3 separate regions of the Homo sapiens genome follow, and all the other regions are linked to region 1. The links come from fine-mapping of genetic effects on gene expression. A gene starts in region 1. Each other region holds a variant in brackets. All regions are shown on one strand. Distances are between the middles of the regions. Region 1 holds the start of EIF1AX (eukaryotic translation initiation factor 1A X-linked). Region 2 overlaps BCLAF3 (BCLAF1 and THRAP3 family member 3). Region 3 holds the start of MAP7D2 (MAP7 domain containing 2).

Region 1 (10,992 bases):
TAACCACCCAGTGGATTCACCTTGCTCTGTGGAGACAGAGCCAATTTATCAAGACAGGAGAATTGCAGTAGAGAAAGAGTAATTCATGCAGAGCCAGCTGTATAGGAGACTGGAGTTTTATTATTACTCAAATCAGTCTCCCTAAGCATTCAGGAATCAGAGTTTTAAAGGATAATTTGGTGGGGGGTCGGGGGGCGGTGAGTCAAGAATGCTGATTGGCCAGGTCAGAGATGAAATCATAGGGGATTGAAGCTGTCCTCTTGCAATGAGTCAGTTCCTGGGTGGGGGCCACAAGCTCATATTAGCCAGTTTATTGATCTGGGTGGTGCCAACTGATCCATCAAGTGCAGGGTCTGCAAAATATATCAAGCACTGATCTTAGGCTTTATGATAGCGATGTTATCCCCAGGAGCAATTTGGAGAGAGTCAGAATCTTGTAGCCTCCAGCTGCATGACTCCTAAACCATAATTTCTAATCTTTTGGCTAATTTGTTAGTCCCACAAAGGCAGTCTAGTCCCCAGGCAAGAAGGGGATTCATTTTGGGAAAGGGCTGTTATCATTTTTGTTTTAAACTGTAAACTAAATTTCTCCTAAAGTTAGTCCAGCCTACACCCAGGAATGAACAAGGACAGCTTGGAGGTTAGAAACAAGATGGAGTTGGCCAGGCACGGTGGCTCACGCCTGTAATCCCAGCACTTTGGGAGGCCGAGGTGGGCGGATCACGAGGTCAGGAAATCATAGACCATCCTGGCTAACATGGTGAAACCTCGTCTCCACTAAAAATACAAAAAATTAGCCGGGCATGGTGGCGGGCACCTGTAGTCCCAGCTACTCAGGAGGCTGAGGCAGGAGAATGGCGTGAACCCGGGAGGCGGAGCTTGCAGTGAGCCGAGATCTCACCACTGCGCTCCAGCCTGGGCGACAGAGTGAGACTCCGTCTCAAAAAAAAAAAAAAAGAAACAAGATGGAGTTGGAGTTGGTTAGGTCAGATCTCATTGTCTCAGTTACAATTTTGCAATGGTGGTTTCGAAAACCATATAATTATGCAAACTGATACCACTGCAAATTTATATTTTCTAACCTCAGCTAAACCCTCAGTACCATTTGTCATTTGATCCGTCTCCTATTTCTTTAATAGTTTTATTGAGATATAGTTTACACGCCATACAGTTCACCATTTAAAGTGTACAATCTAGGCCGGGCATGGTGGCTCATGCCTGTAATCCCAGCACTTTGGGAGGCCGAGGCAGGTGGATCACCTGAGGTCAGGAGTTCAAGACCAGCCCGGCCAACATGGCGAAACCCCGTCTCTACTAAAAATACAAAAATTAGCCGGGCATGGTGGCAGGAGCCTATAATCCCACCTACTCATGAGGCTGACGCAGGAGAATCACTTGAATCTGGGAGGCAGAGGTTGCAGTGAGCTGAGATTACGCCATTGCACTCTAGCCTAGGAGACAAGAATGAAACTCTGTCTCAAAAAAAAAAGTGTACAATTTACTGTTTTGTTTTGTTTTTATTTTTTTTGAGACAGTGTCTCACTCTTGCCCAGCCTGGAATGCAGTGGCACGATCTCAGCTCATGGGTTCCAGTGATTCTCCCTCCTCAGCCTCCCAAGTAGCTGGGACTACAGGTGCACACCACCACGTACGGCTAATTTTTGTATTTTTTAGTAGAGACGGGGTTTCACCATATTGGCCAGGCTGGTCTCGAACTCCTGACCTTGTGATCCACCCGCCTCGGCCTCCCAGAGTGCTGGGATTACAGGTGTGAGCCACCGCACCCAGCAATTTAATGTCTTTTAGTATAGTACTTACAGAGTTGTGCAACCATTATTATAATGTAATTTTAGAACATTCTCACCATCCTAAAAAGAAACTTTATACCCTAGTCCAAGCCACAACTGTCTTTCGTTCGGACTGTTACAGTAGCCTCCCGTGTGGTTTCCATTTCCACCCTTGCCCCCTACAGTCTGTTCTTAACACAGAAACCAAAATGATCTATTTAAAAACCTACTGAAAGGCCGGGCGCAGTGGCTCATGCCTGTAATCCCAGCCCTTTGGGAGGCCAAAGCGGGTGGATCACTTGAGGTCAGCAGTTCGAGAACAGCCTGGCCAACATGGCGAAACCCCGTCTCTACTAAAAATACAAAAATTAGCCAGGCACGGTAGCGCACACCTGTAGTCCCAGCTACTAAGGGAGGCTGAGGCAGGTGAATCACTTGAACCTAGGGGGCGGAGGTTGCAGTGAGCCAAGATCGCGCCACTGCACTCCAGCCTGGGCAACAGAGCGAGACTCTGTCTCAAAAAAAAAAAAAAAAAAAAAAAAAAAAACCTACTGAAGATTCAAGTGATCTGGCCTCCTTACTTCTCCAATCTCATCTCTTCAAATTCTTCCCTTGGCTCAATGCATTCTAGCCACACTGACCTTTCTTTTCTTCCTTCCTTCCTTCTTTCCTTTCCTTCATTTATGTCCTTCCCTCCTTCCTCCTTTCCTTCTTTCTTTCATGGGGTCTCACTCTGTTGCCCAGGCTGAAATGCAGTGGCACGATCATAGCTCATTGCATCCTCAAACTCCTGGGCTCTAAGGATCCTCCTGCCTCAGCCTCCCAAGTAGCTGGGACTACAGATGTGAACTACCATGCCTGGCTTTTTTTACTGTCGTGTGTTTATTATTTTAGAGATGGGGGGGTGGGTCTCGCTATGTTGCCTGGGCTGGTCTCGAACTACTGGCCTCAAGCTCGATCTTCCCATCTCAGCCTCCTGAGTCACTGGGATTACAGGTGGAAGCCACTGCACCTGGCTTCTTGCTGTTTCCTGAATATACCAAGCATGCTTCCACTCAGGGCCTTTGCCCTTGCTGTTCTCTCTGCCTAGAACACATTTCCCCCAGATGTCCACCTGACTCACTTCCTTCCAAGTGATTAAGATGATCAGTCAGATGGGGGAACCATCCTACAGTAGAGAAATGAAGCCTGATATTTTTTTTTCCTCTTTGAGGTTTTATACTGGGTAATTGACAGAAACTTTTTATTTTTAAACATTTAGAGTTCCGGACTCTTAGAGTCTAACTACTTACCATGTACTAGGCACAATTGCTAATTGAATGCATTATATCAATTTAATTCCTGCAACAACCTAATGTAAGTACTATTCTTTTTTTTTTCTTTTTTTTTGTTCGTTTGTTTGTTGGAGATGGAGTTTCACTCTTGTTGCCCAGGCTGGAGTGCAGTGGCGCGATCTTGGCTCACTGCAACCTCCGCCTCCTGGGTTCAAGTGATTCTCCTGCCTCAGTCTCCCAAGTGGCTGGGACTATAGGCGCCTGCCACCATACCCGGCTAATTTTTGAATTTTTGAGTAGAGATGGGGTTTCACCATTTTGGCCAGGCTGGTCTCGAACTCCTGACCTCAGGTGATTCGCCCACTTCGGCCTCCCAAAGTGCTGGGATTATAGGTGTGAGCCACTGCGCCTGGCCGGTTAGTACTATTCCTACATCCAATTTACAGATGAGAAAACGGAAGCTTGTAAAGAGATTAAAACTTGCCCAAGAAAATAGAGTAATAAGTTACTGCAGAGCTTGAATTTGAACCCAGGCCTCTCTAACTCCAAAGCTCAAGTTCATAATTATTTGACCTTGGAGCAAAATTTAAATAAATTTCATAAAAAATCCTTTCATCCTCAATTATGTAAATTGAAAAATATTGCAGATAGAAAGAGAAACCCAGAACTTTGAGTCCCCCATTATCTTTCAATTTCACTCTAAGAAGTGCATCTGTCATTGGGTTTCTCAATATCAGCTCTGCTGATGTTTTGGGCTGGATAATTGTTTGCTTGTATGGGGGAGGGGAGATTGTACTGTGCACTGTAGGATGTTTAGCCGCATCCCTGGCCTCTGCCCACTAGATGCCAGCATCACTGCCCCCCTCCTCAAGTTATGACAACCAGAAACATTTCTGGTTGACGCTGCCAAATGTTCACAGAAAAGAACCACTATATTAGATGATGATACTTTATTTCTGTCTTCTAAGTATGTGCAAACCCTGGTGTTTGTGGAAAGGTGATTTATTTAAAATAAGTTTACTTGGTTTAGTCAAAATAAGTTTACTTAGAAATAAATCTTGTAGAGTACAGCCCAGCATTAGCCAGCTGTATTAGTTTGCTAGGACTGTCATAACAAAGTACCACGTACTGAGTGGCTTAAACAACAGAAATTTATTTTCTCATTGTTCTGGAGACTGAAAGTCTAAAATCAAGCGTCAACAGGGTTGGCCTCTCTCCTGGGCTTATAGATGGCTACCTTCTTGTTCACGTGGTGTTCTCCCTCTATGCCTGTGGCCTAATAATATCTTCTTGTAAGGACACCAGTCAGATAAGGGTCCACACTAATGACCTCATTTCAATTTAATCACGTCTTTGAAGAACTTATGTCCAAATACAGTCACATTGAGTTACTGGGGATTAGAACGTGAACATACGAATTTTGGGGGGGACACAATTCAGCCCATTAACATTGAGCTTAAGTCTTTTCTCCCCTCCCTCCCTTCCTTTCTGTGTGTATTGAACACCTATTATGTGCCAGACATTCAGCTAAGTGGGGGTAATGGTAAGCAACAAACATGGTCTCTGCCCGGTAAGGTTTACAGTGAGGTAGGACAGACAGACTTAAAGAGTAATAACAAGTGCCATGCAAATATTATGCTTTGGTAATGGATGCCAGGAAAGCCTTGCCCTTCCCATCAGGCTCCCAACCCGGCTGGGCGAGTGAAAGGACTGCGTTATGAGCTAACCGGCTGGGCACGGTGGCTGACGCCTGTAATCCCAGCACTTTGGGAGGCCGAGGTGGGCGCGAGTTGAGGTCACGAGTTCGAGACCAGCCTGGCCAACATGGTGAAACCCCGTCTCAACTAAAAGTACTAAAATTACCTGGGCATGGTGGCACATGCCTGTAATCCCAGCTACTCGGGAGGCTGAGGCAGGAGAATCGCTTGAGCCCGGGAGGCGGAGGTTGTAGTGAGCCGTGATCGCGCCACTGCACTCCAGCCTGGGCGATAGAGCAAGACTCCATCTTAATAAAAAAATTAAAATATTGGCCGGGCGCGGTGGCTCACGCCTGTAATCCCAGCACTTTGGGAGGCCGAGACGGATGGATCACGTGGTCAGGAGTTCAAGACCAGCCTAGCCAAGATGCTGAAACCCCGTCTCTACTAAAAACACAAAAATTAGACGGGCGTGGCGGCACGTGCCTGTAATCCCGGCTACTCCGGAGGCCGAGGCAGGAGAATCGCTTGAACCCGGGCGGCAGAGGTTGCAGTGAGCCGAGATCGCGCCACTGCACTCCAGCCTGGGCGACTCTAGAGCAAGACTCCGTCTCAAAAAATAAAATAAAAATAAAAATATACATATTTTTTAAAAACTGAGCTAACCACGAGGTTAACGAGTCAGCCACTTGTGAAACCGGGAGACGCGCGTTTGCTACAAAGCAGCAGAGGTCTGGTCTTAACCAGCAGCAAGCGCCACCTCAACCCGCCCTTTTCTATGACGCAGAGTCTCTCCCCCTCCCTCCCTGACTCCGCCTTTTCCCTGCTTGAGGCCCTGCCCCTCGCGTCCTCTCTGGCTTGCTGCGCACCCTCCCACAACGCGTCTCCCTCGGCTCTAACAATAGGAGTCAGTCGGCCACGCCTGCGTCATAAAGCCTGGGGGCGGGCCCAGCCGGCGACGGGAGGCGGGGAAAAGCGACGCAAAGAGTCGCGGCGCCATTTGCTGCCGCCGAGCGTGGACGCAGGCGGATCTCTGAAGAGCTGGGTCGCCAGCCTCTCCCGCGCACGTTGCCTGGCCTCCAGCACCTACTTGGTCCCGCGCGCTCCCTCGTGTCGCCCCTCGGAGCAGCAGCCGCCGCGGTCGCCGCTACCCGGAAAGAAGTCAGAGACGCCGCGAGGTCGCCGCCACCGCCATGCCCAAGAATAAAGGTAATGCCGCCCGGACCCCCGGACCACGGCTCTGCTCGGCCGGGTCTCCCAGGTCCTGCCCGTAGATTGCAGGTCACCCAGGCCGCAGTGACCCTTTTTCCTTCCCGCCCTGCCTGCCCGCGGCTGGGCGCCCCACACGCGACTCTGAGCTCGGGAGAGGAGCTGGGAAGTTAACTCCTGTTGCCCAGTTTGGTCACATTGGGGTGGAGCCGGCGCCATTTTTGTAGGGCCTCCTGCGGGAGAATGTGGGCTTTTGCTCCTGATTCGCGCCAGACTGACCGCTGCTCGGTGGGGACGGTGGCGGGAACCTTCCCCGGGGCGGCCTAGGTTTAGTAGATAGGCCCCTTTGGCCTTCCCGGGCATGAGGGGTTATAATCCCTGGAAGCCGTTCTGAACTTTCAGAGTGCTGTCTGCATTCGTGAGCACCAGGTACTCCTGCATGGGTTTCTTTATGGACAGTTCAGTATTGTTGAGGCTACTCGCTGTCCCTTGTGAACAGTGGGTGAAACCTTGATACATTTCTAAGGCTCACCTCTAGAGATTTACTCTCTCCATCCCTTTACAGGATATAGCTTATGTTTGTTTGCTGAAGACTTATTCCATATTGAGCCAAGTTTTCTACTTTTGCTTCAGATGATGCATATGTTGTGAGAATAAAGACCTAATTTAAGTGTCCTCCATTCTGAGGCTAAGCGTTCACAAATGATCAGACTTGAGGATAACTTTATTTGGGATTTCCAAAACGGAAGGCCTAATCTTAAAAAAAAAAAAACAAAAACAAAAAACAGAACACTCCTAAAGAAATTACTTTTATAGATTTACAGTGTTCCTGTCATTTTTAATAGCCGTATAACTTGAAGAAAATTGTGCAAGTAAATATAGGGAAAATACTGTATTTTCCTACAGGAGAGGAGCATACTTCATAGTCCGTAAGTAGTCTCCTTTGATTATTCATTCTAGAGGAAACCCTCCCCTGACACAGGCCTACTTCTGCTCTCTTTTCTACTTGACAGCTGGCTCCAGGGATTCTACCACATTTCCTCTTTGTAGCTGTCACTTATTACTTTATCCCTTAGGGTACTTGGTCGAGGTGTTCTGTGCACAAGTTGGTGCAGTCACTGCTCATTATTTTGGAAAAGATGGAGTTATAAACAAAAAATTTTAAAGTCTTACAGTTTTCTTCTGTATAATCCTTTATTCTCTCTGAGGTGGTAAGGGGATCACTTCCATCTTATTCTCACCTTTATTTCTAGTAATAAGATTTCCAATTCTTCCACCAGGCTGTAAGCTCTACAAGGCAGGAATAGTATCTGTCTTAATCTCATTGGATTGCCAGCACTTGACAATTAGTAGATGCTTAATAAATATTTGTTGGTTTAAGTCACCTACCTCCTGTCGACTCCACCCTTAGTGAATAATAGGTTCTGCTTTGGTTCCAAGGGGATAGGACTTCTACACTAAATCACATCTAGTTCCCTAGCCTCATGTCTTAAGAAAGAGCCTCTCTGGGAATTTCTCCAAAACAACTCTGGTTTAAAGAATGTTGATGTCACTTTAATTGTTGTACACTCAGACCTAGTCTCATTCATTCAACAGAGAATTTAAAGAACATCCCATTACATGGCAATAAAATACAAAGGGGAGTGATCCGGGTATGGTTAATTCTGGTAAATTGACAAGTAATTAGTCTTTTCTTAAATAACATTTGAGGCATACAAAAAATACAGCTAACATGATATACCTGGGAACCCATTACTCTGAATTTAAGAATTACAGCGCAGATTGAGGTAAAGCCCTAATCACCTTTTACTCTCTTTTTGGAGGTAATCACCAGGCTGAGTTTGGTGTTTATCATTCCTGTACTGTCTGAAACCAATCAGTTCTTAGTTATCTTACTTAGAGGAATGGTACTTTTCATGACCTAATTTAAGTGTCCTCCATTTTTTTTTGCTGCTTCCAAGCTCTTCCCATGAGTCTCTTAGGGTCATTACCACTTACAGCCTTTTTCCTGCCTTTTGGAAATGGCTGCCAATGTGGTTTCCTTTCTGGAATGGGAGCAAAATGCTGTGGAGAGGTAAGCTTATGTGGGGGCTAGGGGCAAAAAAAACATTGTGACTTTGGTCACCCCAGCTTACTGACTGTAATCAGTGAACTGATTTACTCACTGAAGCTAAGCGACTTACTTAACTTCTCTGAGCTTCAGGGAACTCATGGGTAAACTGGGAATAAATGAATGTTATGACCTCATGGGGTGATTGTGACAAGTAAATGGGCAGAATTATTGCATAGTGGTTAAGAGCATGGTCACTGGGGTCATATAATAGAAACAGGGATGTTGAGTAGGGACCAGCATTATAAAAGAAAGTAAATTGGGTACCGAACAGATCTTCTTTATTTTTTAAGAGACAGTGTCTCGCTATGTTGCCCAGGCTAGCCTGGAACCTCCTGGGCTTGCTCAAGTGATCCTCCCACCTGAGCCTCCTGAGTAGCTGAGACCCTAGGCGCACACCACTGCACCCAGTGAGATTTCAATATTTATGGTACTCTGCTACCAAAAGTTTGAAAACCACAGTTCTCTGTCCAGACACTGTCTTCACTTAATTTTGAAAGTATCGGGTTCCTTGCATAGGGCCTGGCTTTAGAAGACACCCAAGATTTCCGCTTAGAAGAATATGTATAGAATTGCATTTTTATTTCAAAAGGATGGGTGCTAAAGTGAAATGTTTTTCTATATTTTTTAACATAATATCTGCTATTTATGTGTATTTTATGTCAGAAAAATCCCCAAAGGAAATTCCAAGAAGGGTAGGGAGGTGATAATGTGTTAATGTTGGGATTGGAGATTGTAAATTTAATATGATTGTGTAGCTAAAATAGATGAATTTTTTAATTTAAGTGATCTTTTAAAAAATGGTTTTATAAGCCTTAATTTCATTTTATTTCATACTGTTTTACAGATAATTAATGTCATTTACCTCCTTTTCTTTTTTTTAAACCATCAGGTAAAGGAGGTAAAAACAGACGCAGGGGTAAGAATGAGAATGAATCTGAAAAAAGAGAACTGGTATTCAAAGAGGATGGTCAGGGTAAGTGTTTTCATAAATTACGCTTTTTAAAATAACATCCTTTCTTTTTTAGCTGGGGACTTTATTTTTTTGAGACAGCGTCTTGCCCATCGCCCAGGGTGAAGTGTGGTGGCACGATTACAGCCCACTGCAGCCATGACCTCCTGGGCTGAAGCAGTCCTTCCACTTCAGCCTCCCGAGTATTTGGGACTACAGGCACACACCACCACGTCTGGCTAATTTTAAAAATTTTTTTAGGCTGGGCGCAGTGGCTCACGTCTGTAATCCCAGCACTTTGGGAGGCCAAGGCGGGCGGATCACGAGGTCAGGAGTTCGAGACCAGCCTGACCAACATGATGAAACCCCGTCTCTACTAAAATTACAAAAATTAGCTGGGTGTGGTGGCACGTGCCTGTAATCCCAGCTACTCAGGAGGCTGAGGCAGGAGAATTGTTTGAACCTGGGAGGCGGAGGTTGCAGTGAGCCGAGATCACACCACTGCACTCCAGCCTGGGTGACAGAGGGAGACTCTGTCTCAAAAAAAAAAAAAAAAAAAAAAAAAAAACTGTATAGAGATGAGGTCTTCATATGTTGCCCTGGCTATTCTCGAACTCCTGGGCTCAAGTGATTCTCCCACCATGACCTCCCAAAGTACTGGGAACTAAGAATGTGTCGTATAGTTCAGAGGGAATTGAGCTATGGTTGACAGTTCTGTGATTTAGTTGGCAGTTCTATGATTAGCATTTCTGGTAGTGAATGGTACATATAATATGTTGAGTAGACCATGGACATTTGAAGGATGAGCCTGAGGCCCTTATAGACCTCTCCATTCTCCAGTGCCATTAGCATATAACTTCGTAAACTACAATAAAATGAAACTGAACAGTTAACTGATTTTATTAGACTGAAGAATATTGTAAGTGCCAGACCAAGATACATAGCACTAGTCAAATAAATCCTAACTGGATCGTTTGCCCTTTCCTGTTACTTTTATTTCGAGTCATTTCAAACCTACAGAAAGTTGCAGTATTAGTGCAACAAACTCCCTTAAATCCTTCATCTGTACACACACATATAAAGAAATATATATGTGGGATTTTTTAATTTTTTTTTTGAGATGGAGTCTCGCTCTGTCGCCCAGGCTGGAGTGCAGTGGCGCGATCTCGGCTCACTACAAGCTCCACCTCCCGGGTTCACGCCATTCTCCTGCCTCAGCCTCCCAAGTAGCTGGGACTACAGGCACCCGCCACCATGCCTGGGTATTTTTTTTGTATTTTTAGTAGAGACGGGGTTTCACTGTGTTAGCCAGGATGGGTCTCGATCTCCTAACCTCGTGATCCACCCGTCTCGGCCTCCGAAAGTGCTGGGATTACAGGCGTGAGCCACCGCACCTAGCCCCATATGTAGGATTTCTTCAGGACCATTTGAAATTTAGAGACATCATGTTACTTTTCCCTTACTTGATCATGTATCTTCTAAGTGCAAGTATATTTTCTTATATAACTAGAAGAGAATTATCACACTCAGGTAATTTGACATTGATATAATATCTAGTATATACTCCATATTTCCTCAGGTATTCCAATTATTTCCAGTACTTTAGCTTTTAATAGAACTTTGGGTGGATTTATTACGCCATACATATAAACCAGTAAACATGAGATACGTTTTCTGGCTAAAAGTCCTTTGGTTTCTTAGCCTTGGTCATCCTTGCCTCTAAAATAGCAGCTGACTTGACTTGGGCATACACTGTTTTATTATTACTTTTTCCCTCACTTCAGAAGAAAGGCTGCCTTTGAGTTGACCAACCATGTTGAGGTGGTAGATGGGTGCTAAACTCACTGTAGTCTGAGTAATTGACTTCCACAAGTCATCCCCACTGTTGAGCCTTTCAAAATGAAGTCTCAGTATATTTACAAATTAATGGACATCCTCTCTGGGGATTAGTCATATTCTAATT
Region 2 (10,992 bases), 220 kb after region 1:
CCTGAGAGTCTGATTATATACTAGATTGGAACAAAGAAGCTAGTAAGAATTAATGAAGTCACCTCTGGGAACATTGCCTCTGAAAAACTGTAAGTAATTGCGCATTTGGCCAGGAAGGCAAGGAATTCCAAGGCAGCGGAGATCTGAGGAGCATTCTCCAGCAGTCCTCAGGTGCTGTGGTGCTTACCAGAGCTCTGTCCAGGGATAGGAAAGGAAGAGAGAAGAGGGCATAATGACAGTGCAGAAAGGAAGTTAGAGACTGGGATTCGTGGTTTTGGGGGTTGAAAGAAACCTTGAAAGTCATGGAGTACGAAAATAGAACAGGAACCAAGATTAGCTGAATCAACAGAAATCTAGTATACACTTGCCAGGTCCCTTGAGCTGAAGTGTGCCAGGGTGCAAAGGAAGTGTTGCATAAGGGCATCATCACTTTCAAGCACTTAGGATCTGGAGGCTCCAGTTTCACTACCTACCTCTCTGCCTTCTCTGTCTTATTTGGTTTTCTCTTCCTCCATGCATTCTTTTAAAATGTAAGCATTTCCTAGTGTGATGTGATATTATTCTCTTTTTTCAGTCCTCCTTCTTGTCTTGATTGCCCTTACCTCCTCCCAAGATTTCAGCCATCACCTCTGTTGATGTCTTCAACCCTGACTACTCTCCAGACCTCCAGATTGTCAGCTGCCTCCCAGATGCCCTCACATGGATGTCCTAAAAGCACCTCAAATTTAGCATGTTTAAAATCAAACTTGCAGCTGGGTGCGGTGGCTCACGCCTGTAATCCCAGCGCTTTGGGAGGCCGAGGCAGGCGGATCACCTGAGCTCAGGAGTTCGAGACCAGCCTGGCCAACATGGTGAAACCCTATCTCTACAATCCCAGCTTCTCAGGAGGCTGAGGCATGAGATTTGCTTGAACCCAGGAGGTGGAGGTAGCAGTGAGACGAGATCACATCACAGGACTCCAGCCTGGGTGACAGAGTGAGATTCTGTCTCAAAAAAAAAAAAAATAAATAAATAAATAATCAAACTTGCATTGAAACATGCTACAGCATGAAAGACCCTTAAAAATATGATGCTAAGTGACAGAAGCCAGACACAAAAGACCACATATTGTATGATTCAGTTTATATGAAACGTCCAAAATGGGCAAATCTGTAGGGACATAAAGTAAATTAGTGGTTGCCAGTGACTCGGGGATGAGGGGAAAATTGAGAGCAGGTATGGGTTATTGCTAATGGGTATGGGATTTCTTTTTAGGGGAAGAAAAATATTCTAAAGCTGATTGTGGTGATTGATGGTTGCACAACTCTGTGAATATACTAAAAAGCTACTGAATTATACACTTGAAATGGGTGAACTGTATAGTCTATGGATTACATCTCAGTAAAGCTGTTAAAAATTATGTCAGACTTGCTGTCCTCCCCCAACCACTTGTTTTCCCTCAGGTCCCCTAGCTCTCAAAGCTAGACAAGCCAAGCTGGAAACGTGTCCTACTAATTCTCCCAGTTCTCTTTCCAACTTTAATGGTTTCAAGTCTTCTCATTTCCATCACTCATTCATTACTACATTTGTTTCATCCATTTTAATGGCTGCATATTATTCCACTCTGTGGATATATGAATTATTTCAGTGGTCTTCAACCTTTTTGCTCCATACTGTAAAGTTTTGAAAAGTTATCTACCTTCTTGCACATTGGTAGGTTATCTAATATTTTTATCGTAAATTATTGTATAGGATACAATTTCTGGCATATTATAAACACTGACAGTCTTAAAACTGTTGCATTATATTTTTAAATCTCTTTGGAGGAACCTACATACCACAGGAACTCGATAACTAATACCATCAATTTTTTTTAATACACAAATTCTTTTAACAGTGAGAAATTTTGCATTGTTCCTTTTTTTGCCTTGAATTTGGACTTCATTCCACTTTCTCCATATAATTTTTTTTTTTTGAGATGGAGTCTCTGTCACCCAGGCTGGAGTGCAGTGGCGCGATCTCGGCTTACTGCAACCTCCACCTCCTGGGTTCAAGCAATTCTCCTGCTTCAGCCTCCCAAGTAGCTGGTACAACAGGCGCATGCCACAATGCCCGGCTAAGTTTTTATATTTTTTGGTAGAGATGGGGTTTCACCATGTTGGCCAGGCTGGTCTTGAACCCCTGACCTCAAGTGATCTGCCCACCTCAGCCTCCCAAAGTGCTGGGATTACAGGCATGAGCCACTGCACCTGGCCCCTCCATAGAATTTTATCTTTAAAAGTATTTTGTTGATCACCAAATCTATTTGGTGCATAATGTTATTAGATTTCTGTGACTATTAAGTGTTAAATATTTCCTCTGGATTGAGTTAATATTACAGTTGAAGTATTGATGAAACAAAAGAAGTCTTACTGCAAATGCATTTTTTTAATTAGTTTATGTATTCATATATACTGTTGCTAGTAGAATAATATAGTATTCAAGTATTCTATTTTTTTTCTTTTTATAGATATAAGTGCTGAGAAACCCTATTTATATGATTACATAGATGGGAATGAAGGGACTTCTATTTATAGGAATGCCACTCAGTTCTCTGGACTCACTCTGAATTTTAGGCCAAACAAATCATGTACTAATCTATTATCAAAAAGTATTTTGAATGTTCTATCACTGATAGCTTGATTTTGTCCAGGTCTCGAACTCCTGACCTCAGGTGATTCGCCCACCTCAGCCTCCAAAGGGCTAGGATTACAGGTGTGAGCCACCATTCCCGGCCTATGGTTAACTTTTAAACATATTAATATTTAATCCATTTAGAATTTATTTTATTATTCATTTTATTATTTTTATTATTTATTTATTTATTCTGAGACGGAGTTTTGCTCTGTTGCCCAGGCTGGAGTGTAATGGCATGATCTCGGCTCACTGCAACCTCCACCTCCCAGATTCAAGTGATTCTCCTGCTTCAGCCTCCTGAGTAGCTGGGATTACAGGCACCCACTACCATGCCCAGCTAATTTTTTTGTTTTTAGTAGAGGTGGGATTTCACCATGTTGGCCAGGCTGGTCTCGAACTCCTGACCTCAGGTGATCTGCCTGTCTTGACCTCCCAAAGTTCTGGGATTTATTAGGCATGAGCTACCACGCCTGGCCAATTTTTTATTTTTTTGAGGTGGAGTCTCACTCTGGCGTCCAGGCTGGAGTGCAGTGGCATGACCTCAGCTCACTGCAGCCTCCGCCTCCCGAGTTCAAGCGATCCTCCTATCTCAGCCTCCCGAGTAGCTGGGACTACAGGCATGCGCCACCCTCCTGGCTAATTTTTGTATTTTTGGTGGAGACAGGGTTTCACCATGTTGGCCAGGCTGGTCTTGAACTCCTGACATCAAGTGATCTGCCTGCCTTGGCCTCTAGAATTTATTTTATTTTTATGATATAGTGTAAAGTCAGGATCTAACTTTTTTCCCCAATAAATAGTTTTTTAACACTGTTTATTGAAAATTTGTCCTTTCCCTGCTAATTGAAAATGCTGCTTTTACTATATTCTGCATTCTTATGTATCCCTGATCTGTTTTTGGAAGCTTTGGAGTCTTCTCGCTTGTTTCATTGCTTCTTGTGATATTCTAATTTAGTCTCTTTGATCACAGTCATTGTCCTGAAACACAGATCATATCATACCCCTCTTGCACAAACACCTTCCAAGTATTTTATTGCCTACAAGAAAAGAGACCAAACTTGTTAGCCAGGTCTAACCCTAAGCTATCTTACTAGCTGCATTTCCCCATAGACTCTCTGCTTTTTGGAGCATACTGTATTTTCATGTATTTGTACCTTTGTTCCTACTGTTCTCTTAGCTAGAAATAGCCTCCTGAGCCCCATTCTTTTCTTATTAAACCCTACTTTCCTTTTAGGACCCACTGTAAATCATATCAAAGCCCCCACTATAACTTGTGTTTCATTTAGTCTCTAATTATTGTCATTTGCCTTTGTATTTCCCCAAATAGATTATCAAATTCTTGAGGGTGCCTCGCTAAGCATTTTTTTTTTTTTTTTTTAGACAGGGTCTCACTCTGTCGCCCAGGCTGGAATGCAATGGTGTGATCACAGCTCACTGCAGCCTCCACCTCCCGGGCTTAAGTGATCCTCCCACCTCAGCCTCCCAAGTAGCTGGGACTACAGATGTGTGCCACCACATCCGGCTAATTTTTGTATTTTCTTGTAGGTACGGGGTCTCGCCATGTTGGCCAGGCTGGTCTCGAACTCCTGGGCTCAAGCGATCCACCCACCTCGGCCTCCCAAAGTGCTGGGACTACAGGTGTGAGCCACTGCACCTGGCCTCGTTAGTCTTTTATCTTACCTTATTACCTTTCATATAGTCAGTCTTCAGAAAATGCTTATTGAATGGAGTTGAATTTATTCATGCACACACACACACACATCCATCCATATGCTCTAAAATGTTAGTGAACAAAAGCCATTGTGTCAGGGGTCCCTAAGACCATCCCCAGGTTTTGCTAGGACTCAGACGACTTAGCATATAGTCTTTCTCATAAAAGAATAGAGAGCAAAATCAGCAAAAGGAAAAGGCATATAGGGCGAAGTCCAGAGGAAACCAGGTGCAAGTTTCCAAGGGTTCTCTCCCAGTGGAGTCTCACAGAACATACTTAATTTCCTCATCAATGAGTTGTGACAACACATGCGATACATTACCACCCTGGGAAGTTTGCTAGAGTCTCAGTACCAAGAGTTTCTACTGGGGGCTGATCATGTAGGCGTCCCCTGCCAAGCACATACCCAAATTCCAGACTGCCAGGAGGAAAGGGAGTGCTCAGCGTAAACCATCTTATTTACACAAACAGTTTCAGCACCCATCAGTTAATGGTGGGGACCCTCTTGAAATCTAAGTTCCCAGATGCTGGCCAAGGGCCATTTTGTAAGCAGGCCTTTCCAAGGACAGCAGTCAGATCTGCTGTGTTAACCCTTTTCTGTACAACCTTTTTTTTTTTTTTTTTTTTTTTGAGACGAAGTCTCACTCTGTCATCCAGGCTGGAGTGCAGTGGCGCCATCTCAGCTCACTGCAACCTCCGCCTCCCAGGCTCAAGCGATTCTCCTGTCTTAGCCTCCTGAGTAGCTGGGATTACAGGTATGCACCACTACACCCAGCTAATTTTTGTATTTTTGGTAGAAATACGGTTTCACCATGTTGTCCGGGCTGGTCTCAAACTCCTGGCCTCAAGTGATCCGCCCACCTCAGCCTCCCAAAGTGCTGGGATTACAGGTGTGAGCCACCACACCTGGCCAACGCAACCATATTTTTGTTTTGTTTTTGAATGGAGTTTCACTGTTATTGCCCAGGCTGGAGTGCAATGGCACGATCTCAGCTCACTGCAACCTCCGCCTCCCAGGTTCAAGTGATTCTCCTGCCTCAGCCTCCCAAGTAGCTGGGATTACAGACACCCACTATGACGCTCAGCTAATTTTTTT[G/TG]TATTTTTAGTAGAGGCGGGGTTTCACCATGTTGGCCAGGCTGGTTGCAAACAATCATATTTTTTAAGAGCTTAACTTCACAGATGGTTAATGCCTAAAGGGAAGAGAAAATCAATATGGTAGGAATGGTCAGGAGATACATGCTAAGTACTTCCATTGATACACTCTTCTTACAGGAGGTAGATTATAAGCTGAGGCCTGGAGAAGAGCAAGACATAGAAAGGGCTAAAGCCAAAGACCCATGTTTGGCAGGAGGATGTGAGGTTGGGGAGAAATGGAGGTGTGCAAATTATAGATGGCCCCAAAAGCTGGGCAGGAGGATATTTAGGGTTTGATGTGGTGGCACTAGAACATCTTCCTAGACTGAGGAGAAAGTGGTACTTTAGGATGGCTATGTAGTTAGCAGTGGGTGGGGAGGTTCTGGGGAGAAGAAATGAGGTGCAGGAAGACCAACAAGGGAACGTGTGGTGACCCAGATGACATGTTATGAAAACCTAGATAAGAAGTGCTCATATATCTAGTTCAGCATTCTGCTTAAAATGGGCTTTTATGGCCAGGTGCAGTGGCTCACACCTGTAATCCCAGCATTTTGGGAGGCTGTGGTGGGTGGATCACTTGAGGCCAGGATTCAAGACCAGCCTGGGCAACATGGTAAAACCTTGTCTCTACAAAAAATACAAAAATCAGCTGAGCGTGGTAGCATGTGCCTGTAGTCCCAGCTACTCAGAAGGCTGAGGCAGGAGAATTGCTTGAACCCAGGAGGCAGAGGTTGCAGTGAGCCAAGATCGCACCACTGCACTCCAGCCTGGGCAACGGAGACTCCATCTCAAAAAAAAAAAAAAAAAAAAAAAAAAAAGGCCGGGTTGGGGGGGCTTTTAAATCATTGGAAGGGTGGAGGGATCAAGTGGAGATAGGTTATGAAAGAAGCTATGTCAAGGGTGAATGTAACTCAAAATAATCACACATTTAACAAGATACTTCAACTGAATCTTATTTTAGAATTATTGTAGTTAGAATTTCCTTTTAAAGTTGTAAGTAGGTAACATTTTATTTGAAGATAAATTTATATGATTTTTATATTGTATAATGAGTAAAGAACTAGGATACAATGAAGTCTACCTCTATTTAAAGGAATGATGTTGACAAATATATACGTGCATGTATTTTGAAGATTTCATTAACCAAAATAGAAGAATAAGAATTTTCTATCAGCACTGTTTTTGTTTGGAATTAAACATTTCCATACTAATATAAATGCCAAAAAATAAATCAACTTTTACATTTCTTTCAGTTTTAATAGTGTAAGATCCTAGTGAAAGGTAAGGATATGTATATTAATAAATTTTTATTTTTTAATGTCCCTAAAAAATGTGCCATTTTACCATGTTTGCTCCGTTATTACTTGCATGGTCTTATGTCCAGTTTGTGGTTAGTAATTGAATATTGTGCATAGTATCACAGTATAGAATCCACGTTCATTATTCTCTAATCATAGTCTCATTGTTCTTGTAAATTCTTCTTCCTGTATTTATTGAAGCCTTACACCTTTTTATACTGTAGTCAACCATCCAAAAGTAAGAAGGCATTTCCCCCTCTAATAACTTTCTCTGCAGTTATCAGTCAGTTAAAAGAGCCCATGTAGTTTTAGAATTAGAGATATAGGGTGGAAAAGATAAAATACTAATTTGAGGTGTGCGTGTGTAGTGTCAGGCTCCGTACTTGAGAGCCAAAGGTTTAAGAGTCTTGATTTTATGCCAGGGATGCCTTCACTGAAACTCACCCAAATAGCAGAAGACTGTTTTCATCAATTTACTAATATCAATGTTATCTAGCACCACATGTTTTCTTTGTCCTATTGATTTATCATGCGATATTGCTTTGATGTGTTCTGTTGTTACTTTGCGCCTTTGGGGTTCCACATGCCTTCGTGGGAATCTCGGGGTGCAAGTAACACTGTATAAACGAAAATACTTTGAAAATTGCAGTGTAAACAAAACTAGCTCAGATGTTTGACACTTTGTTTGAAGTCTTTATTTCTCTTGTTTTCTCTCAATAGGAATATACAGATGTTGCCACAGGAATCTAATCTGAAATCGTACAAATGGAAATGACGCTACAGGAGGATGTTTGGGAGCATCTCTCTCTTTTTGTCAGGAGTTAGAAGTGACACTAAGGCACTAATACTGTAACTTCTTGATAAAATAACTTTATTTTTTAGTAGTGGAATGCTGCAACTTTTTTACACCTAACAATTGCTTTTAAATTACAGTATTCAATTTAAAAGTTGTATTAACTACAGTTTCCTTTGCAAAAAGTCTCAAAAGAATCACTTGAAGGGCATTATTTGTTGATGCATTTTTCTCTGAGCATGGTTTCATAGAGAGAACTTCACCAAGTAATATTCAGACGTTTATATGTTGAAAGTTTTGCTTACATAATAAAAACAAAAACAAGTGTCTGAATTGTATAGTGTCTTTACATGAAAGAACTTTAAACAGTGGCCTTATGGTAGAAAATTTTATACCAGATTTTTCTTTTTCTGATGACATTTTGGCTTATAACTCGAAGTTTTCTTAAGTTTCTGAAGATCAAGGCCTATATAATTCATACATTTCATATTATAAGAAGGCAAGAGACAAGGTGCTTCAAATATTCCATCAGGTAGTTGTGAGTGCACTGAATTTTTAGTAATATGTTCATTCAGTTTTTTTCCACAACTATTTGCTCTTTTCCAATTTCAAAATGCTATTGTGGAAAATATGTAAAGATTTTGTAATCTATAGTCCATCTTATTTTTCCCTCAGGGCAAGCTTGTGCATATCATATTTTTAAAGGCTTTTTAAAAATCTGACAAACAAAATCTCATATTTGAAAATTGTACTTTACTACTACAGCATTACACATTTTGCAAGCACATCTTATAGAGTGTTTACTTTTAGTTCAGTTGATATGTATTGCATACCTACTATGTGTAAGAGCAAATGGATGGGATTTTTAAATGAAATTTTTAGGCCCCAATACCTTATTTCTTTATGTTTTCTGTGTTCTGCTTAACAGTACATATACATTCCCAATTACATTTTTGTGAAATGTTTATTTGTAATAAAATAAAATGTTGTTGCTCTTTCTGCTTAAATAAGTTACTTGCCAGTTTGTGAGAGCATTATTTTAATTTTGTTTGAGACTTATAGCCTTGGATAGCACCTCTGTTTAAACAGTGTTTAAAGCACTGTTCTGTGCTTACAAAGACAGAGCTTTCAAAATTAAAATGTGAAGGTTGATAAGAACTTGGTTTTTCATGACTGGATGTGAAAAATCTTAGTACATTCAGTTTTCTTGTCCATATCTTTAAAAGAGAGGGCAGCCTTTTCCTTAAGTGAGTTCATGATAAGGGGGGCAAGTGCACTTGATTCATTGCTAAGCAGGTAATAAATTTGGGTAGATGGCCTGTCTTGTACTGTGTACAATCTCTATAGGTCAGGTTTTCCAAACATATTTAGCATTCCACTTATGGTAAGAAAGAAATGCATGCACACAGGTAGTATGGCAACTTTATATTGTGTTAGGTACTTATAAAATCTGTCTTAAATTTTAAAATAATTGATTTCATTTACTCCCATATTCTAGGGGACAGTAATGAGCTTTGAATATTTAATCATTTGATTGACAACTATGTATTGCACAGATACTGTACTAAAATTACAGCAATGAACAAGAAGACAAGACACATGGACCCTGCCTTTATGGTACGAAGAGTCTAATAGGAAAAATGGACATTAAACAGAAATATAACTTGGTAAATCGCCTTTATAGCTCGCTTTTTATTTATTGTAACACATAAAGGTAAGATGGCTGATTTACTATTATTCATTCCACAACTGATTCCCTATTTGGATATTCTTTTGGCACTGTCTCAATATGCAAAGCGTGTTATCTGCAAAATACCTGTGCAGAAAACATTGTGTGTATAAGATCTAAAGCCTAAAAGGAAAAACCAACTTTATAATTTAGAGTATAAAATAAGGACAGGGACCGTGTCTGTCTTGTCCACCATAGTATCCCCAGCACCCAGCTTCCTATTTGACGTGTGGTAAGAGTTCATTAAATATTAGTTGAATAATGAATGAATAAATAGGGAATAATAGAATATGTTTATTAGGAACTACATGTGTAATTTTCATATGGAGATTGAACAAAAGGTTATCCATAGCATTTTTTATTGACTGGAAAGAATTTGACTTCTTGAATGCATAAGACTTGAGAAGAGAAGTTTTTTTTTTTTTTCTTTTTTTTGATAAGTCCCCTACCATTGCCTCCTCACCTTCCTCCACTACGTGCTAGGCCCTTCGCTGGTACTGGGAAGACAAAGATAATAAGACACAGTCCCTGCTGTGAGGAAGCTCATGCACTGCTGAAGAAGAGATTCACAAAAACAAAGAATCACAATGTAGAGTAAGTACTTTAGTGGACATATATACAAAAGGTTGAGAGGAAAGTTGACATTTCTGATTCAGCATCCCCTCGTCATGTTTCTTTCCTATTGGTTTCACCAACCTCAGAAGGCACTATTCTGTTGGTGGTTTTACTGGTTTTAAAAATTGATGCATTGGGGGAAACTGGGTAAATTGTACGCGGGATCTCTCTGTATTATTTCTTTTATAGCTGCATGTGAATCTAGAGTTACTTCAACATAAATTTCAATTTGAAGAATTGCCCATAGTCTTATCACAGAGAACACTATTATAAATATTTTAGATGATACATTTTCATTTTTTTCTATTGGAAAAAAACTCGCTACATTTATGTGTAACAATTTATGTAGATGTATACTATGTACCACATTTTACCTAATAAATCCTACATTTTTGAATAGTTTTTTTTTTAAAAAAAAGACGGGGATACTTCCAGGCAGAAGCAAGAAAAGTAAAGCTGGATGAGAAACTCTTATTGTCTTTATTACCCAGCAAATTCAGTAACCACCAGGCACAAATTCACCAGGAACAACCAAGCAAGGAAGGAAGAAGAAGCTGATGCAACAAGGTGTGGTATGACTTCATCCCTCGCCCATCCCCAGAAGTAGCACTGAGTAAAACAATGGAGATGACAAAAATATTGGTAACAGTGGGCCCCAGTATGGACAAAGGCACTGACGAGGTGACCAGGCCACGTGGAGGAGAGTCAAGGAAAACTCTTGGGACAACGAAGTCTTTGCTTCCATCTCAGGACCTCAGCAGAAGGGGTAAGATTCACCAGGACTAGGCATTTCCCAGGTCTCAGAGCAGCCTGGGAAAGCCAAATCCTGCAGAAGTCAGAGACACCTTTGACTGTGTCTAGTGAGTTCTGGTTCTGGACATTTAATGGGAACCTAGAAGAGAGGGGATACCAGGTTCCCCAACAAAGTTCCGTCAAATAGGATGATTATGAGCTCTGAGTCCATTAAAATACAGAATGAACATTTAAGAACTGAGGAATCATAGATGTAGAATAGTATGTAAATGTTATAAATCTTGACAAAGAAAAATTAATGTACATT
Region 3 (10,992 bases), 24 kb after region 1:
GATGGGGTTTCACCATGTTGGCCAGGCTGGTCTCGAATTCCTGACCTCAAGTGATCCGCCCGCCTCAGCCTTCAAAGTGCTGAGATTACAGGCGTGAGCTACCATGCCCGGTTGGGAATTTTCTTAGGTTATCTACCAAAGGCAAACATAGAAATAAACTTGCAATTAAAAAAAGGTTTTTGGGGCCAGGGCGCAGTGGCTCACACCTGTAATCCCATCACTTTGGGAGGCCAAGGTGGGCGGATCACCTGAGGTCGGGAGTTCATGACCAGCCTGGCCAACATAGTGAAACCCTGTCTCTACTAAAAATACAAAAATTAGCCAAGCGTGGTGGCGGGTGCCTGTAATTCCAGCTATTTGGGAGACTGAGGCAGGAGATCACTTGAACCTGGGAGGTGGAGGTTGCAGTGAGTTGACGTCGTGCCAGTGCACTCTAGCCTGGGCAACAGAGCGAGACTCTGTCTCAAAAAAAAAAAAAAAAAAAAAAACATTGGACAGGCGTGGTGGCACACTCCTGTAATCCCAGCACTTTGGGAGGCCAAGGCAGGTGGCAGGTGGATCACCTGAGGTCAGGAGTTCAAGGTCAGCCTGACTAACATGGTGAAACCCCGTTGCTACTAAATACAAAAAAATTAGCCAGGCGTGGTGGCACATGCCTGTAATCTGAGCTGCTTGGGAGGCTGAGACAGGAAAAGAGCTTGTACTTGGGAGGCGGAGGTTGCAGTGAGCCGAGATTGCACCATTGCACTCCAGCCGGGACAACAAGAGCGAAACTCCGTCTAAAAAAGAAAAAAAAAAAAGCTCTAGTATGGGTGAATAGTACCTTAAAATCTACTATACCACTTAGTTGTTGTGCAGGTCTCAAATTATCTGGTCTCAAGCCCTTTATATCAAGGGGCAACAAACTACAGTAGATAGGTCAAGTACGTCCCACTACCTATTTCTGTTAATAGGTTTTATTGGAATATAGCCACACTCATTTGTGTGTGTTGTCTGTGGCGGCTATTTTTGCACTACGGTGGCAGAACTGAGTTGTTCTAACAGATCAGATGGCCTGCAAAGACCCAAGGTATTTACTATCTGGTCCTTTGTAGAAAGGGGTTTGCCAACTCCTACTTTATACTTAAAAATGAAGAATCACAGAGCTCTTTTATCTGGCTAATGTTGGTAGATCAAATTTCTAAAACTAATTTTTACTTGAAAGTATAAATGTAGCACTGGCAATAAATACTGTCAATTTTCCTTGAAATGGCAACATTGCTTGTGAGTTGTCTGTCAATGTTGACTGTATTAATAGATTTTGTAAAAATGGTAATTCAAGAATAAACCCAATGCATTAGCATAAATTTTTTTTTTTTTTTTTTTTTTTTTTTTGAGACGAAGTCTCACTCTTTCACCAGGCTGGAGTGCAGTGGTGCGATCTCAGCTCACTGCAACCTCTGCCTCCCGGGTTCAAGTGATTCTCCTGCCTCAGCCTCCCAAGTAGCTGGGACTATAGATGCACGCCACCACACCTAGCTAATTTTTGTATTTTTAGTAGAGACGGGGCTTCACCATGTTGGCCAGGATGGTCTCGATCTCTTGAACTCATGATCCGCCCGCCTCAGCCTCCCAAAGTGCTGGGACTACAGGCATGAGCCACCGCGCCCGGCCTAGCATAAACAATAAGGAGTAACAGAAACAAAAATTTGAGATGGCATTGTTGCACATTTTTGCAAATCTTGACCAGCTTGATAGAAGACAGTCTCATATCTGCTTTTGTATTCAATGTGTCCTAGTAAGTTTTGGTTAAAGCATATGAAGAAAATCTGGCCTCAGAGGTATGTAGTTGGAAAAGGAAGATTTTAATAGTCTTTTCAGATACTTGTATGTTCTTTGATACTACACACAATCTTGACAAGAGGTGATTTCTTAAGTTGCACTGTGGAATCTAACACCAAATCAACAAACGTTTCATACTGTTACATTATAATTCATTGGTCTATTTTGAACTATGAATGGACTTTGTAACTTCACACACCTGGAAAACTTGGAAAAAACTGACAGAGGTATGATCTTCCATATGTTGACCCTTTTCATTCTACAGTATTAAGATGCCACATTTCATTAATGTCACTGTCTCTTCAGAAAAGTTCTTACTTTAGTGAAGTTGTCAAGCTAATGGTAGCAGATACTAGTTTTGTAAAACTTTTTTCATGCTGGAAAGCCCAAATTTTATCACCACCAACAAATATGGTCACTTGTTTCCCTTGAAGTGTCAGGCTAATTTTATTCGTTTTTGCAAAAATGTTGAACACAAATCCAAGTTTGAATTACCAGCTTATCAGCTTTTCTTTCAAGTAAAAATGATATTTCATGAAAGTGTCCAGTTGTTTGGAATACAAATTATCACAAATGCTTTTCCTTGAGACAACTGCTGTACATTGGTATGCAGAAGAGGTTTGTGTAGTATTCCCCACTTTGTCACATGAAATATTGAAAAGATGTGTACTCAAAGGTTAGGATGTACCAGTGTATGAGATTAATCTCTTCAGGTTAATAAATTTTTATTGCATTGTCAGAGACACTAACTTTTTTTTTGAGATGGAGTCTCCGTTGCCCAGGCTGGAGTGCAATAGTGCAATCTCAGCTCACTGACCTCTGCCTCCCGGGTTCAAGCGATTCTCATGTCTCAGCTTCCCAAGTAGCTGGGATTACAGGCATGCGCCACCACACCTGGCCAATTTTTATATTTTTAGTATGGTTTCACCATGTTGGCTAGGCCGGTCTGGAACTCCTGACCTCAAGTGATCTACTCGCCTCCACCTCCCAAAGTGTTGGGATTACAGATGTAAGCTACTGCACTCAGCCATTTATTTATTCATTCATTTATTTATTTATTTAGAGACAGGATCTTGCTCTGTTGCCCAGGGTGAGTGCAGTGACGCCATATCACAGCTCACTACAGCATCAACCTCCCTGGCTCAAGTGATCCTCCTACCTCAGCCTCCCAAGTAGTGGGGACTACAGGTGCACCACCAAGCCCGAATGTTTTGTTTTTATTTTTTAGAGATGGGGGTCCCACAGTTTTGTCCAGGCTGGTCTCTAACACCTGGATGCAAGTGCTTCTCCCACCTTGGCTTCCCAAAGTGCTGATATTACAGGTGTAAGACACTATGCCCGGCCAAAAACCTCTTTTTTGAGACAGGGTTTTGCTCTTGTTGCCCAGGCTGGGGTGCAATGGCGCGATCTTGGCTCACCGCAACCTCGGCCTCCTGGGTTCAAGTGATTCTCCTGCCTCAGCCTCCTGAGTAGCTGTGATTACAGGCATGCGCCAGCACACCCGGCTAATTTTGTATCTTTAGTAGAGATGGGGTTTCCCCATATTGGTCAGGCTGGTCTCAACTCCCGACCACAGGTGATCTGGCCGCCTCAGCCTCTCAAAGTGCTGGGACTACAGGGGTGAGCCACTGCGCCCGGCCATGCTATAGATTTTTATAGGAAGTTAGTGTAGTGGGAAAAGCACGGAAAACTCGAAAGTCATTTTTTTTAAAAGCTTAAATAGAAATTACACTATTGGATATTCTGTCATAATGTCGAAAATGTCAATTTTCTCCAAATTAACCTCTGACTTCAATATAATTACATTTAGTATTACAGCAGGCCTTGGTGGGAGATTGCAAAAACATCCTAAAATATATTCATGTGGAAATACTGAATTTCAAAGAATTCTAGAAACACTGCTAAGAGGGAATTCAACAAATAAATTGCACCCTAAGCCATAGTAGTGAATAATAGATGCAGTAACAGGAAGATCAGAATAGATAGCTCAGAAGCTATCTCACCTACTATGGAAATTAGGTACTTGATTTTTTAAAAAGTGGCTTCAAAAATTACTGGGGAAAGGATAGGTAAGCAGGTAGTGCTGACCAAACTACACTTCGGAGAGAAAAGTGGATTTGGCTCTTTACCTCACCCTATACAGAAAAATTGCTTAAGAGTAAAGCATTTTTTACTTTTTTTTTTTTTTTTTTTTTTTTTTACGTTTTTTACTATAAGCATGAGGGCAATGGGGAGTATCTTGGGACTAGGGAAGTTCGTATTAAGACTTCTTAAAATGCAAACCATAAGGTGAAAAATTTATGGATTTTATCACTTCGTAATCATTATGAGATCAGATCAAGCAAGAACCATCAATGGATGCTAAATCTAGAGAGAATTTTTGACGAAGAGTAAGTACCTGCATAGCCTTAAGGTGCCTCACCACAGTGCATTTTGCAAGAGGAAAACTACCTCTAAGGTGGAGGAACAGCCAATGGAGAGAAAATTACTGTATCCATGTGAAACTTAAGTTGGTAGTCAACTCTAGTATGTGTAACAGAACATTCATAATCTTAGGAAATACACATGGAAGTATTTGTAATGTAACTTTCAAAAACAGTTGATAAAAAATAGGGCAATATTGTAAATGGAGTAAACATGTTAATAGGATTTTGTCATAAAAATTAAGGAAAATTTTACCAATCTTAAAAAGCTTAGTTGGCTAGGATAAAATATTTGCAACATTTAAACCAGAAATTATCTAGAATACAAGAAACTCCTGGAAATCAACCAGAGTAGCCCAGTGGAAAGGTGGGCAAGGATTGAACAGGGAATTTACAGAAGGGTAAACCAGATAGAATGGCTAATCATTTTGTGTAGATTGAGAACAATGCCAAGAGAGGAAAAACAAATAGAATGATAGCTTTTATGCAGTGTCATTTATATACAATTAAAATACATGCGTATCTTCAAAACAGTATTTCAAAATTGCAGCTGCAAAGATATCAGAGGAGGTGTTTATAATTAGGGAGAGGAATGGAAAGTAAAAGGACCCCAAAAATAGAATAAAAGTAGAGAGGGATGCTACACACACATGTCCATGAGCTCAAGAGTTGGATGAATTGAACTCACCAAAGGTCCCTAAGATAAGGGAGGAGAAAGTGACAGCTCCCACGCTCTTAATTTGGCTTAATCTCAATGTGTTCGAGTTTTCATTACAGCTCAGGGTACCAGCCCCCACCTGCTCACTTTCCTACTCATTTATGTTTAAACTTCCTGGCTTTCTCACCACACTTGAACCCTACTCCCGGCACACCTTTGGGCGTGTCAGGAACACGTTCATCACAAACATTTTTTGTGCCACAAAGGGACTTTCCCAGCTTTGGCCAAGAGTACAGGTGCCCATTCCTGAGAGTTTCAGCTTCACATTAAAAAAAAAAAAATGAGACATAATTAAGGGACCATAAAATTCACCCGCTTAAAATGTACAATTCAATAGTTTTTAGTATACTTAGTTGTGCACTCATCATAATCCTAGAATATTTTCATCCAAAAAAGAAAACCTGTACCCATTATTCAGCTTCATTTTTAATCGTGTATATCTCCCC[C/T]CAGGAGTGGTAATAAAACTTTCAGGCTGGTCACCTTCCAACGAGAAAAAACATGCAGCCTGGGGCTCCATGGGAACGGGTTATCACTTGGCAGGCCTGGGTAAACAAAAGGCTTGAGCCGGCCCTGCCAAGATGTCTTTTTCAATGTTTTTGAAAAGATAATAAATGTGCATGGCAGTGGTAAAAGTGCCTACTTAGGAGGCAACCCGTTTAGCAGTTTCTTGTGTGTCTTCTCGGAGAGATCCTCCTCAGAGGTTTTTTGTTTTATTTTGCTTTTGAGACAAGGTCTCTGTCGCCCAGGCTGGAGTGCAGTGGCGTGATCACTGCAGTCTCGACCTCCCGGGCTCAAGCGATCTTCCCGCCTCAGCCTCCCAAGTAGCTGGGACCACAGATGAGTCGCCATGCCCAGCTAATTTTTAAAATTTTTTTGTAGAGACGGGGGTCTCGAACTCCTTAGCTCAATCAATCCGCCCGCGTCAGCCTCCCGAAGTGTTGGGATTACAGGCGGGAGCCACCACACCCGGCATCGCGGAGGTTTCAGTCAGCATTATTTACGCCTCAGGAGAAGAGGAACCAAATTGGCTGCGGAGTAGGGTGTCGTTGAAAGGCCTAGGTCGGCCTACGGCGCGTGCCGCTGCCTCTTAGTTGAAGATCGACCCCAATAGCTTGCTGCTGTCCCTCTCTGGGTGACCGCACGCTGAGGGTGGGGCGTCACTAAACACTGATTACCCGTGCGCCTCGAAAACTGGAACCTAACTATGCATGGAGGGCGGGTCCTCTGGCGTCTGCACAGATGTCACTGGCCCAACTGGCACCCACCTGGGGGCCTAGCCAGAAATTGTTCCCAAGGCTGCATTGCTGAGTTTGCATGCAGACACCCAGTGAGTGTAAGCGTGTGCGTGCTGAGTGAGCACGTGTGTGCGCGTTATGTGCTCTGTGTTCACACATTGAGTGAGGATGTGTGTGCACGGTGTCTGAGAAACTGCACCCTACATCTACACACGCTTTGAGTGTGTATCTGCTACTGTGAGAAGATGCATTTACGCTGGGTGTGCACGTTGTGTGTGCATGTTGCATGTAAGCATCGTATGAAGAACTGTGTGCGTACGCACGCCTTCTGTGTGTGCACTGTGTACAGCAGCGTGTAAGGACGCGTGCACGCCCGTACGCGCTGTGTGAGGACTGTTGTGCACATTGCATGCACACGCTACAAGCGCGCGCCGCGTGAGAACCGGTGCGCCTATCGCACGTGCACGCCCTGCGTGCGCTGTGCGTGGAAGCGGTGCGCCTATCGCACGTGCACGCCTTGCGTGCGCTGTGCGTGGTAACCGGTGCGCTTATCGCACGTGCACGCCCTGCGCGCGTGCTGCGTGAGGACGCGTGCGCATGCGGACGCGCGCGGGTTCGGTGCGGCGCGGCGGGCTTGGCAGTGCGCCTGTGCGGCCGGCGCATCCCGATGGAGCGCGGCGGCGGCGGCTCCGGGACGGGATCCCGGCCTGAGGGGACTGCGCGGGGAACCTCTCTCCCAGGGAAGATCGCAGAACCGGGCGCGGTGCGGACCTCTCAGCCCAACTACCGGCCTCAAGGTATTATCCCCAGAGTGTGGCGGGCGCCCGAGGGCTTCGGGTTCCTGTGGGGGGGCGGGCCCGGCGGCCCAGGGCAAAGGTCCTCGAGCGTGGGGGGAAGGGGCACGGCGCAGAGCTGAGATAAACGCCCTTTCCCTGGCCCAGGATCGTCCGGACGTGCATCCAAGGGCCGCACCCCTCTCTGTGCGAGTGGCGGGGTTCTTTCTTGGGGCGACCTGGGTGAGTGGGTACACATGGGGGGTGGCTTAGGGTGGGCGGCAGGTGTGTTTGGGATGGAGGTGCCTGAGGGGGTGCTGCGGGTCCAGTCCCCGTCCTCGAGGAGCAGCCGGCATGGGGGTCGTTAGGATAAACCGAGCGGGGTTCTGGGGTTGCCCCGGCCTCCGCGCGCGCTCTCTCTGCGTTCTGGGAAACGCGCGCGAGCGCCGCTGCAGCCCGCGGCGAAGGTGGCCCAGCTTCGCGCCTCTTGGCGTTTCCAGGGGGCAAAATCGGCGTGTCACCCATTGGCAGAGGCAGATTCGCCCGGGCGGCCAGGCGTCTGCCCCGGACCGGGTGCTCCTCCCGCCCGGATGCGCTCCCTGTCTTGGGAACGCTGCTCAGGTGGCCGGGCCGCGGCCCTCAATCGAGGCAGCGGGGCAAACAAGGCTCTCAGCCCTCGAGGCTGCCGATGCTGGGAGCCATGGAGGGCTGGTCCCTGGCTGCCCAGAAGCCAGCGAGGCAGCGGAGGAGACTGTGAGGACATTTGGCAGGATTTTAGATAAGCAGGTCTGATGCTAACGTTCTGTAAAGTGGTTGCAGGTAGTGCGGGGGTGTAAGCAGCATGGAAACCGATTTCATGCTGTTTTTCCTGACAACAACTTTTTTATTTTTAGTTAATAAGGCAGGCTATTTTTAAAACATTTTTTATTGCAGTCTAATATGCATTTAAAAAACCACACAAAACTATAATTCGATGAATTATCACATAGTGAAGATGGGAGTATTTTATATACGATGGGCCAAGAAAAGGAAAGAAATCAAGAGAAATCTTCTTAAAACACGCTTTTTCACTGGGGTTGAGGGGGCGAGGTAGTATTTTCTGACTGGGCCTTCAGTTGCATCATTCTTAGGAGGAGGAGATAGCTTAAATCATTTCCAGTTTGTATTTTTCATTATGCTATTTTAAAGGCAGAATTCATTAACTGTCACAGGATAACGTTATAACTACCTTTGAAATGTGTGCTTTTGTTTTTATCCTTTTTGCTTGAAACACTCAAGCTGCATCTGCTAGGGAAGAACCTGGAAACTACCCACCAGAACGACCCTCCGTGGCAGAGGCGACCTTGTATAATAAAACACTGAAAAGGAGAGGTTGTTTCAGTTTGCATTTTTATTTGGTTGAGAGCTTAAATAATAGTTTGTTTCGATGTTCTGTTGTACTCATGAGAGGTGGGGAGGGGCGGTATGATTGGGTTTTCAGTGTATCTTGGATTTTATTTGAAGGAACTTAAGGGGTTTTTTTTTTTTTTTTTTTAATGGAAACAAAATTGGGGAAGGGGAGGAGGTACTTTTGCGGGGGAGATTCTTAATAAGTTCTGTTTGGAAACTATTGTAGAATCATTTAATGCACTCTTCTGATATTAAGATTAGCTTAAGGATATCTTCCTTCATTTGAAATTGGAAATATAGAAAAATATGTGTGAAGGTTTAAAATGTGAAATAAGCACCTATGTGCATTAAGGTTGGTATGGTAAAATTGGAATGTTTAATTTAGGTGCCAGGTGATACCACCATTTGTTGTTTGGGGGAGTTAGCAAGGCCAGGTACTTAAGTAAAGTCTCCTTAGAAAAATTATGATTTTGAGGTTTTATAATTATCTGTCCTGGATACTGATCATTCTTGGTTACCCAGGCCCTTAGCATTTGGGACCCATTCCTAATGAGACTTAACCTGCTTTTCTAGAGAGTCAACCATTGTTCCTAAGCTTGGGCTGGGTGCTGTCAAGGCTGCAAAATACAGAAAGACCTGAGATGTTTAGGCTGTCCAACAATTTTGTGTTGCACACTTAGGGGATATGAGTTGGCAAGTGGTTTTCCTGGGAGCTGTGTAAAAGACGGAAAGGAAATACCGCTGGTGGTTTCCTCTAGCAACAGGTTCTTCCGATATTGAAATCCTGTGCATGTTCCCATTACCCCCTAGTGATGCCTTCTTTCTTTCCTTTTAATTACCTCTGAATAGAAATTACCAGATCTACTGTCCATTTTAGTGCTTGTCTGATACACATAGTATAACAAATGAGCAAGTGCTTGTTTCAATCTGCTTAACAACCTTTAACCAGCAGATAGAATCACCAGATCTCAACCATATTTCCTTTCTTTCTTTTTAGATGAAGTCTCACTCTGTTGTCCATGCTGGAGTGCAGTGGCACAATCTTAGCTCACTGCAACTTCTGCGCCACCATGCCCAGGATCCCAGCACTTTGGGAGGCCGAGGCAGGTGGATCACTTGAGGTCAGGAGTTTGAGACCAGTCTGGCTAACATGGTGAAACCCTATCTCTACTAAAAATACGAACATTAGCCGGGCCTGGTGGCGCATGCTTGTAATCGTAGCTACTTGGGAGGCTGAGGCATAGGATCGCTTGAACCCAGGAAGCGGAGGTTGCAGTGAGCTGACCTCGCGCCACTGTACTCCAGCCTGGGTGACAGAGCGAGACTCCGTCTCGAAAGAAAAACAAAATAGGGTGGGGCCTGGAGATAGAGAGTAGGTGGTTATTGGAGACTGCGAAGGGTACTGGGGGGTGGGAAGGAGGTAGGAATGGTTAATGGGTATAAAAAAATAGAATGAATTAATAAGGCCTGGTATTTGATAGCACAACAGGGTAATTATAGTCAATAATAATTTAATTGTTCATTTAAAAATAACTACTAGTATGACTGGATTGTTTGTAACACAAAGGATAAATGCTTGAGGGGGATGGCTAACCTGTTTTGCATGATATGATTATTTCATATTGCATGCCTGTACCAAAACATCTCATGTACCCCAGAAATATATGCACCTACTACCTACTATGTAGCCACAAAAATTAAAAATTGTAAAATAAAAAAAAAAGTAGAGTGGGCCCGAGTAGCAAAGGCATTGGGTCCCCAAGAAATCGGAGTTCTTCATCCTTTTTCAAAGTTGTGTTTAAAACCATTCTTGAACGCTTTAATCCTAAAACTGTTCAGATCGCTGGGCGTGGTGGCTCACGCCTGTAATCCCAGCACTTTGGGAGGCCGAGGCGGGCGGATCACGAGGTCAGGAGTTCAAGACCAGGCCGGCCAAGATGGTGAAACCCTGTCTCTACTAAAAATACAAAAATTAGCCAGGTATGGTGGCAGGCACCTGTAATCCCAGCTACTCGGGAGGCTGAGGCAGGGAATTGCTTGAACCCGGGAGGCGGAGGTTGCAGTGAGCAGAGATTGAGCCACTGCACTCCACCCCGGGCGACAGAGTGAGACTCCGATCTTAAAAAAAAAAGTGTTCAGATCAAGAAGAACAAGAGAACAAGTTGAGTTTGTGCCTCTAGAGTCTCTTTGGTAGTAGGAAGGACCACAAACTTCCTACAAAGTTGTATTTGGTTTGTGGCTCCTGGCTTTTTTTACTGATGGCAGCATAGGACTTAGACTTAGCAGGACCTTCAGGACAAACTGCTGAAAGTCTTTGTGATTTCTCTTCTCATATCCTAGCCATGGTGACATAGCTGCTCAAAGTCTGTCATTTCTAACCTGCTTCCTCTCCAACATGAAAGGATGTTTTCCTCTCAGGTGCCCCATCTTCTGCAGTGGCTAGTGTTTTAAAAGAACACTTTGTCTTCTTGTAATTACATTGATTGCCTTACAAAACAGAAGGATTCACAAGGTTGATTTGGGCAGGCGAGAGATGGAGATTTCTGGGGGCTGTTGGTAAATATCCTGGTGGGTCTTGTTGAGAGGATTTGATGAGATATATTGGCTGGTGATACAATGATACTGCCTGGTTT

What was found.
Region 2: its variant is fine-mapped to the expression of EIF1AX in coronary artery (GTEx, PIP 0.93).
Region 3: its variant is fine-mapped to the expression of EIF1AX in nasal epithelium (TOPMed, PIP above 0.99).

What each region holds. Positions count from the first base shown.
Region 1 is chrX:20,136,600-20,147,591 of GRCh38, reverse strand. EIF1AX (eukaryotic translation initiation factor 1A X-linked) reads left to right here and starts at 5,754. Exons shown (of 7, transcript NM_001412.4): 1 at 5,754-5,967; 2 at 8,970-9,053. The coding sequence starts at 5,952. It overlaps EIF1AX-AS1 (EIF1AX antisense RNA 1), which reads right to left and starts at 7,624. Exons shown (of 2, transcript NR_046592.2): 1 at 7,357-7,624; 2 at 7,148-7,257. RefSeq lists enhancers at 5,643-5,692, 5,753-6,022, 6,353-6,512.
Region 2 is chrX:19,913,858-19,924,849 of GRCh38, reverse strand. BCLAF3 (BCLAF1 and THRAP3 family member 3) reads left to right here. Exons shown (of 12, transcript NM_001367774.2): 12 at 7,516-10,992. The coding sequence ends at 7,545. It overlaps LOC124905256 (a long non-coding RNA gene), which reads left to right. Exons shown (of 2, transcript XR_007068407.1): 2 at 1-1,065. Among named protein-coding and RNA genes, the nearest start is that of SH3KBP1, 32 kb to the right of the region's middle. The variant G/TG (reference allele first, on the strand shown) is at 5,460.
Region 3 is chrX:20,112,752-20,123,743 of GRCh38, reverse strand. It overlaps MAP7D2 (MAP7 domain containing 2), which reads left to right and starts at 6,837. Exons shown (of 17, transcript NM_001168465.2): 1 at 6,837-6,994. The coding sequence starts at 6,865. The variant C/T (reference allele first, on the strand shown) is at 5,409.